Linked DNA regions of Homo sapiens. The main gene of each other region encodes a partner of the protein of the gene in region 2 in a complex. Each region holds a gene or a part of one and is shown on either strand. Other genes may lie near its edges.

The links. The genes of interacting proteins can lie anywhere in the genome.
Region 1: CYFIP2 (region 2) and BRK1 share a complex: the UniProt entries of both Homo sapiens proteins name them as parts of the WAVE1 complex.

Annotation. Positions count from the first base shown.
Region 1 is NC_000003.12:10,118,675-10,122,174, reverse strand, and holds part of BRK1 (protein BRICK1), read right to left. Parts: intron 1-3,500. UniProt on the Homo sapiens protein: Involved in regulation of actin and microtubule organization. Part of a WAVE complex that activates the Arp2/3 complex. As component of the WAVE1 complex, required for BDNF-NTRK2 endocytic trafficking and signaling from early endosomes.
Region 2 is NC_000005.10:157,318,123-157,321,622, reverse strand, and holds part of CYFIP2 (cytoplasmic FMR1-interacting protein 2), read right to left. Parts: intron 1,862-3,500; coding exon 1,695-1,861; intron 969-1,694; coding exon 821-968; intron 1-820. UniProt on the Homo sapiens protein: Involved in T-cell adhesion and p53/TP53-dependent induction of apoptosis. Does not bind RNA. As component of the WAVE1 complex, required for BDNF-NTRK2 endocytic trafficking and signaling from early endosomes.

The DNA.
Region 1 (3,500 bases), on a different chromosome or scaffold from region 2:
GAGGCGGGCGGATCACCTGAGGTCGGAGTTCAAGACAAACCTGACCAACATGGAGAAACCCCATACCTACTAAAAATACAAAAAAAAAAGAAATCCTGTCTCTACTAAAAATACAAAATTAGCTAAGCATGGTGGCGCACACCTGTAATCCCAGCTACTCTGGAGGCTGAGGCAGGAGAATGGTTTAAACCCAGGAGGCGGAGGTTGCAGAGAGTCAAGACTGCACCACTGCACTCCAGCCTGGGCAACAGAGCGAGACTCCATCTCAAAAAAAAAAAAAAAAAAAAAAAAAGTGGCCGGGTGCAGAGGCTCACGCCTGTAATCCCAGCACTTTGGGAAGCCGAGGTGGGTGGATCACCTGAGGCAGTGAGCCGAGATTGCACCATTGCACTCCAGCCTGGACAACAAGAGTGAAACTCTGTCTTAAAAAAAAAAAAAGTTTGAGGAATATTTAATGAAATAGGAAAATATTCATGTTACGAAACCAAATGATATTTATGTACTTGTAATTTACAATTTATTTACATGTCTGTTTCACCGTTAGAACAAGTTAATCAAAAGAAGTACATATTGCCTCTTGTAACCTTAGCATCTTGCCTGGTACATAGATGTTGACTGAAAAAAAAAAGATGGATTCTGGTATATTAGTGGAACAAAAGATTGACTCTAGTGTAACTCTATTCACCTTACAAGTGGGAAAACTGAGGTCTAGGTAAGCTGAGGGCCCATGTTGGGTCACTGGTATTCTTTCCCATACTGTGTGCATCCCAATGCACACTACTATCATCTTTCTGTGCCTCCGGGGCTATAATTTATACCCCAGGTCTCCAGCCCAACTCTGCCACTTTCCATTCTTTCACCTGCTTAAAGTATACAATTCAGTGGTTTTTAGTATACTTACAGAGTTGTGCAATAATTATAATCTACTTTTAGAATATTTTCATCATCCCCAAAAGATACCTTATACCTCTTAGTCCTGTCACTCCCCATTCTGTCACCCCTCAGTCCCTGGGAACCACTAATCTTTGTCTCTATGGATTTGCCATTTCTGGACATTCTTCATTCTTTTTACGCTTGTGCTGCTTGAATTCCCAGGTCTAGCTTAAGTATGATCACTTCAGCATCCCCCTTTTCCTGGATGTACTGCCACTTTCTGTCGGAACTGCCCAACAGGACCAAGCCTCTTTTCAGTCTGGTTTTTGGAAGTCTGAAAGCACGTTATGTATGCTACTGAGTAAGAGCATGAATATTATCTCTGACAACCTGCCATTTCCCATGAAGACATACGAAAATTATTGGGGGAGGTAGGAGAGAGGGAAGTTTCCTTCCTGGGTGGCTATTCTGTTCTAGCTGTCAATCTGGTAATGAATTAGAATTCAAGAACAATACTATGCTCCTGGCCTACATGGATAAACACTGTTGAGAAATAGAAAATGTTCAACTGCAGAAACCTTGGTCATATTTCAAATCCTAATAAGTATACGCTGGTTCAAATAAAAAACACTGAGAAAGCATTCAGCAGCTGGATAAATCTGAAACCAGAGCACAAGTATGTGTACATTATCACCAGCCTTTAACTGAAAATACCAGTTCTCGTTAGGAAACAAATGCTGTTATCAGACAGCTCCTTCTCTGAACTTAATGCATATAACTTCAGCATTACAAAAATCAATACTGTCAGGCCGGGCACGGTGGTTCACACCTGTAATCCCAGCACTTTGGGAGGCTGAGGTGGGCAGATCACTTGAGGTCAGGAGTTTGAGACCAGCCTGGCTAACATGGCAAAACCCCATCTCTACTACTAATACAAAAAGTAGCTGGGCATGGTTGTGTGTGCCTGTAATCCCAGCTATTTGGGAGGCTGAGGCAGGAGAATCAGTTGAACCCAAGAGGCAGAGGTTGCAGTGAGTCAAGATTGCACCACTGTACTCAAGCCTGGGCAACACAGCAAGACTCCATCTTAAAAAAAAAAAAAGAATTAGCCAGGCGTGGTGGCGCATGCCTGTAGTCCCAGCTACTCAGGAGGCTGAGGCAGAAGAATCGCTTGAACCCGGGAGGCGGAGGTTGCAGTGAGCCGAGATTGCACCACTGCACTCCAGCCTGGGCGACAGAATGAGACTCTGTCTCAAAAAAAAAACAAAAACTGTCTTTCTTTTGGAATGTTTTTGTAGTTAAGTCTTACTTTTCCAGCAAAATTCTGAATGTCTTAGGAGTGGGTATCATACCCATTTATTCATATTTATTCCTTTCTCACAGCATCTGACACACACCAGGCATGCTACATTTGTTGGCTCAGTACAAAAACCAAGATTTTAAAAAAACAGCCACATTCTCTATTTTGTCTTTATACTTCTCTGCATATATTACCTTTAGAACCAGAAAAAAATAGCATAAGAATAAAAAGCGATAATCTCTAACCATCTATTTTTAGAAACTTCACCAATTCCAAAGTGCAAAATAGGCCTAGTGTTATGATATTTTTGCTACATTACGATTTGTATGTCCTCAAGTTCACGTGGGAGACTGTGACTCTACTCTCACCAGCAGGAATCACAAGGTAAATGCTTTTCAGAAAGTCATTCACTATCTTAGAACAACAGTTCTCTCTCCAAAATACATGGCCCATGCAGATTCTCTGTGGTCAGGGTAAGGACTACAGAATTGCTAACATATTTGAAGAACTTCAGATGCTCCCTCAAAGTAAATTCTTTTTCTTTGAGAGAGAGTCTCACTCTGTCACCCAGGCTGGAGTACAGTGGCACGATCTTGGCTCACTGCAACCTTTGCCTCCAGGGTTCAAGTGATTCTCATGCCTCAGCCTCCCAGGTAGCTTGGAATTACAGGCATGAGACACCATGCCTGGCTAATTTTTGTATTTTTTATAGAGATGGGGTTTCGCCATATTGGCCAGGCTGGTCTCAAACTCCTGAGCTCAAGTGATTCACCTGCCTCGGCCTCCCAAAGTGCTGGGATTATAGGCATGAGCCACTGTGCCTGGCCTCAAAGTAAATTCTTTTTTTTTTTTTTTTTTGAGATGGAGTCTTGCTCTTTCGCCCAGGCAGGAGTGCAGTGGCGCGAGTGCAGAGCTTGCAGTGAGCCGAGATCGCACCACTGCACTCCAGGCAACAGAACAAGACTCCGTCTCAAAAAAACAAACAAAACAAACAAACAAAAAAAACCATTAGGAAAAGGAAATATATTTACTATTCATTAAATGGCAGTGGATCATCATAAAGGTCTTCATCCTCATTGTCTTCCTGCTGAGTAGGCTGAGGAAGAAGGGGAAGAAGAGAGGTTGGTTTTGCTACCTCATGGGTGGCAGAGGTGGAAGGGGAGGCAGGAGAGGTAGGCATACTGTATAACTTTTATCGCAATAAATCCACTTATGGCCAGGCACAGTGGCTCATGCCTGTAATCCCAGCACTTTGGGAGGTTGAACAGAGGTGGATCACTTGAGGCCAGGAGTTCAAGAGCAGCATGGCCAACATGGCGAATCCTGT
Region 2 (3,500 bases):
GACCCTTAAACTTGCAATGAGAACCATCTGCTTTTTCCAGTACATCAAAAATATTACCAGAAACTACCTATCCTTAAGTAGGTAGCAGGGATTTAACGAAGATGCCCAGATTATTGACTTTTTTTTCTGTAACGTTATGACTGCTCTGGATAAGCCACGGGCGACCTCTTGTGCAGAAGCTCTGGCTGGCAACTCTGAGTGTTTCCAAATACTAGACTTCCTCTAAGGGGACAAGGGCTTTCAATACTTGCACTTTTGGAAGGATGTGGAACTAAGGAATATTTTGTTAGTAACACAATCTCATCCAAAGTTTTCATTTTACAGAGAAGATAATCAGAGCTCAGAAAGCTCAAGGTGCTTGCCCAAGATCACACAGCAAGTCAGAGGCAGAACTTTTAGGGGAAAGGGCCAGGACTTATTAAAGAGGGGCAGCATAGATGCATGCAGATAGATTCCACTTTAACCTCCTCCTCCACTTTGGAATCTATACTTCATAGGACTAGAAGATAGCCAGGCAAGGTGGATGTGGTGGTATTATCCCCATTAGCCAGTTTAAACAACTGAGGCACAGAGAGATCTGTAAAGTGCCCGAGGTCACACAGGTATCTAGGACTAGAATCCAGGTCTCCTGAATCTTAAGCCAGTGGTCCTCCTTCCTATATCAAAACAAGATGGCAGAATAAGACCGGAGCAGCCACTCAACCCTGCCCCTCCTGACCGACGGCTCCCAGTCCCACTGCCCATGGCCAGCCATGATGATCTACCATAGCCCGGCTGGCCTCTGAGTCAACGCAGCTGGCCTGTGCCTGGAGCCGCTTACCTGTGTGCTGGATGGCCCCACAGCACGCCGGGGCACCTTGATATCAAATCCACCTTTGGGGTCCTTCTCCCCTCTCAAGCATGGGTCATTAGGGGGCTCTCGCCCTCCCTCCCAGTCACAGATGGTCTTTCGAATTGCCTGTAGGACGCTGGGGAAGGAAGAACTAAGACTTAGACCAGGTTTCACCATGGGAAAACGTCACTACAAGCTTGTGTTTCTAGGGCCCGTGGTGTCCCAGGAACACCCACATTTGAATTCTTGGGGTGCTTGTAAAGCATGCTCATTTCTGCCCCAATTCCAAAACTCTGGTTTAACAGATTTAAGGTACAGTCCAGGAATCTGTGTTTAAACAAGTGTCCTACATGGTTCTGATGTCCAAGGGATGTCTGAGAACTCAGCTCTGAGCCCATCGAGTGAGACAGAACTTGTGTGAGGCAAGAGGTCTGTATTTCCTTTCTGGTTATAGGGGAGTCTCACCGGTCTTATGAAATCTGTGTGTGCTTAGTTTTCATAATAGCTTAGATGTGCTGCATACTTACTCCATGCTGCATGTGCTTAGGTCTATATATGGACCATCTCATTTCATCATCCCAACAGGCAGCAGGTAGCATTATAATCCCCATTTTACAAATGAGGAAAACTGAGGTTTGGAGAAGGTCAGCAACCTGACCAAGTTCACACAGCTAGATAGCAGTGGATATGGACTTCTAGAGATGAAGGCTTAATTCATCCCAAATGCCCAATCTCCTAAAGAGCCCTCTGGAGCTTGCTGGAAGGACCCATGTGTGTTCAGTGGCTGAGCCAGGACATCCTCTCTGATGGGTACCTGGCATGCTTATGTCTGATATGCTCCTGAAGGCATCTGAAAACCCACCTGATGAGGACATTCTTCTTCTTCCGTACCGCCTGCCGCAGGGGCTCACGCAGCGTCACCTGGGCGAAGTCCTGCAATGCCGCGTAGATGGTGTTCCTGATGGCCTGGTTGAAGACGCTCTCCATCCTGCCCATGAGCACCTGCAGGCCTTTGATCATGGCGATCACCTGGGCAGGAAGAGGCCAAGGGTCATGTTCACCATGTCCAGCACACCAGCTGTCTACTACCCATCACCGCCCTGCCAGGGGAGGCGGGGAGTGAGATGTCCAGAGGCATGAGGCCAGTGCTACTCAAAGTGCCAGCGCATGGCTAGGTAAGAGATGTGTGCCAGAATGTACGTATATCAGCACTTGGCTTCATTCATTGAGAAAGTCTTGCTACAAAACACAAATGTCAGCTCAACTAACAGCATTCTTCGCAATGCAACTGATTTTCATCCTCGCATGAGCTCCCAATTTTGTTGTTCACTGCTGACAAATAGCAGCTGGCCCATGGGCCACAATTTGAGCATTTTGAGAAGTGCCTTGGCTTTTGAAGGCCTCTCCATAGACCAGGCACTCACAGACAACATCAAATAGAACTTTTTTAACATAAAATTTTCTAAAGAATTTTTACAACCTTTGTTTTTGAAACCGTTTGGCCAGTTGCTGCTTGAGTTTATAAAATCAAAACTTCTCCTGCAGAAGTCATGGGGGAGAATGCCTCTACTCCCCTATTTCCCTTCTCCTTACCCTAACTCACTTATCTGTTTGGAGAGATGGGGATTCAGGCACGTGTGATGAGAGGAGCCTGGCCTGACCTTGGCTCGCTCTTTTGGGACCTGCCTGCCTGCAAGTATGTGGCCTCCCTTCTAGGTTTCTGGCTGCTTCTTGCAGTAACCATCCCCTGCCCATCCCGAGGAAGGGAGGCGTGTATCTATGCAGCTGCTTTGCCTATTACCTAGTGGCAAGTTTAATGAGATGTAGGAGGCATAGGAACACTGGTGTGGCCTTGGGTGAAAACCACATTCTCTAGTCTAGCTTTACCAGCAGTAAGTCTGAGCCTTTGACTCCATTGGCCTCTAATATTAATTTCTCAATTGATTCAGAATTCAGAGGGAAAGGCATGTGGCAGATCGTCCACCTCACAACTGCCACACAGATCACACCCATAATGGCATGTTCCACCTTCTACACCAGACTGGAAATACACAGGACAGGGCCCAGCTATGCTGTGCACGCCCAACTGCCAGTGTCTGGGTCCATGGTGGGCAGACACATTTTCTGTTGAAAAGGAACAAATAAATGAATGAATGAGCTCAGACCCTAAGGCTGTTTTTTTCTCTAAAACTTAAAGGAAGAAAAAGAACATTTTTAGATAGAACTGGTATGAAAACAACTCAGGAGGTGATGGTTTTCATTGGCACCAACAGTACAACAATTTTGTTGGTGATGAGCTTTAGTGCAGAGAAATAATGGGAGAGAAGCATTAGAGGACTGTTAGATCATAACAGAATCTGGGCCCCTGGCTACAGATATAACTAGGAGACATTAGGAAAAAGGAAGGAGTAAATAATGAAGATGTCTCAGAATGGCTCCAAATACAGAGGAGTGGGCAGGCCTGTTGGATCTAAAGGAAAAATCTTTACAACTCTAGACAAGGCAAAGATTTCTTAGCTGAAACCCCCAAATCACTAACCACCAAATAACTGACAAATTGGACTTCATCAAAATTAAAAACAGCTGCTCTTCAAAAGGCACCCTTAAAAAATGAAAAGGCAAAGTCACTGATGAGAAAAAATATTTGCGACATATATTTGACTGAAGA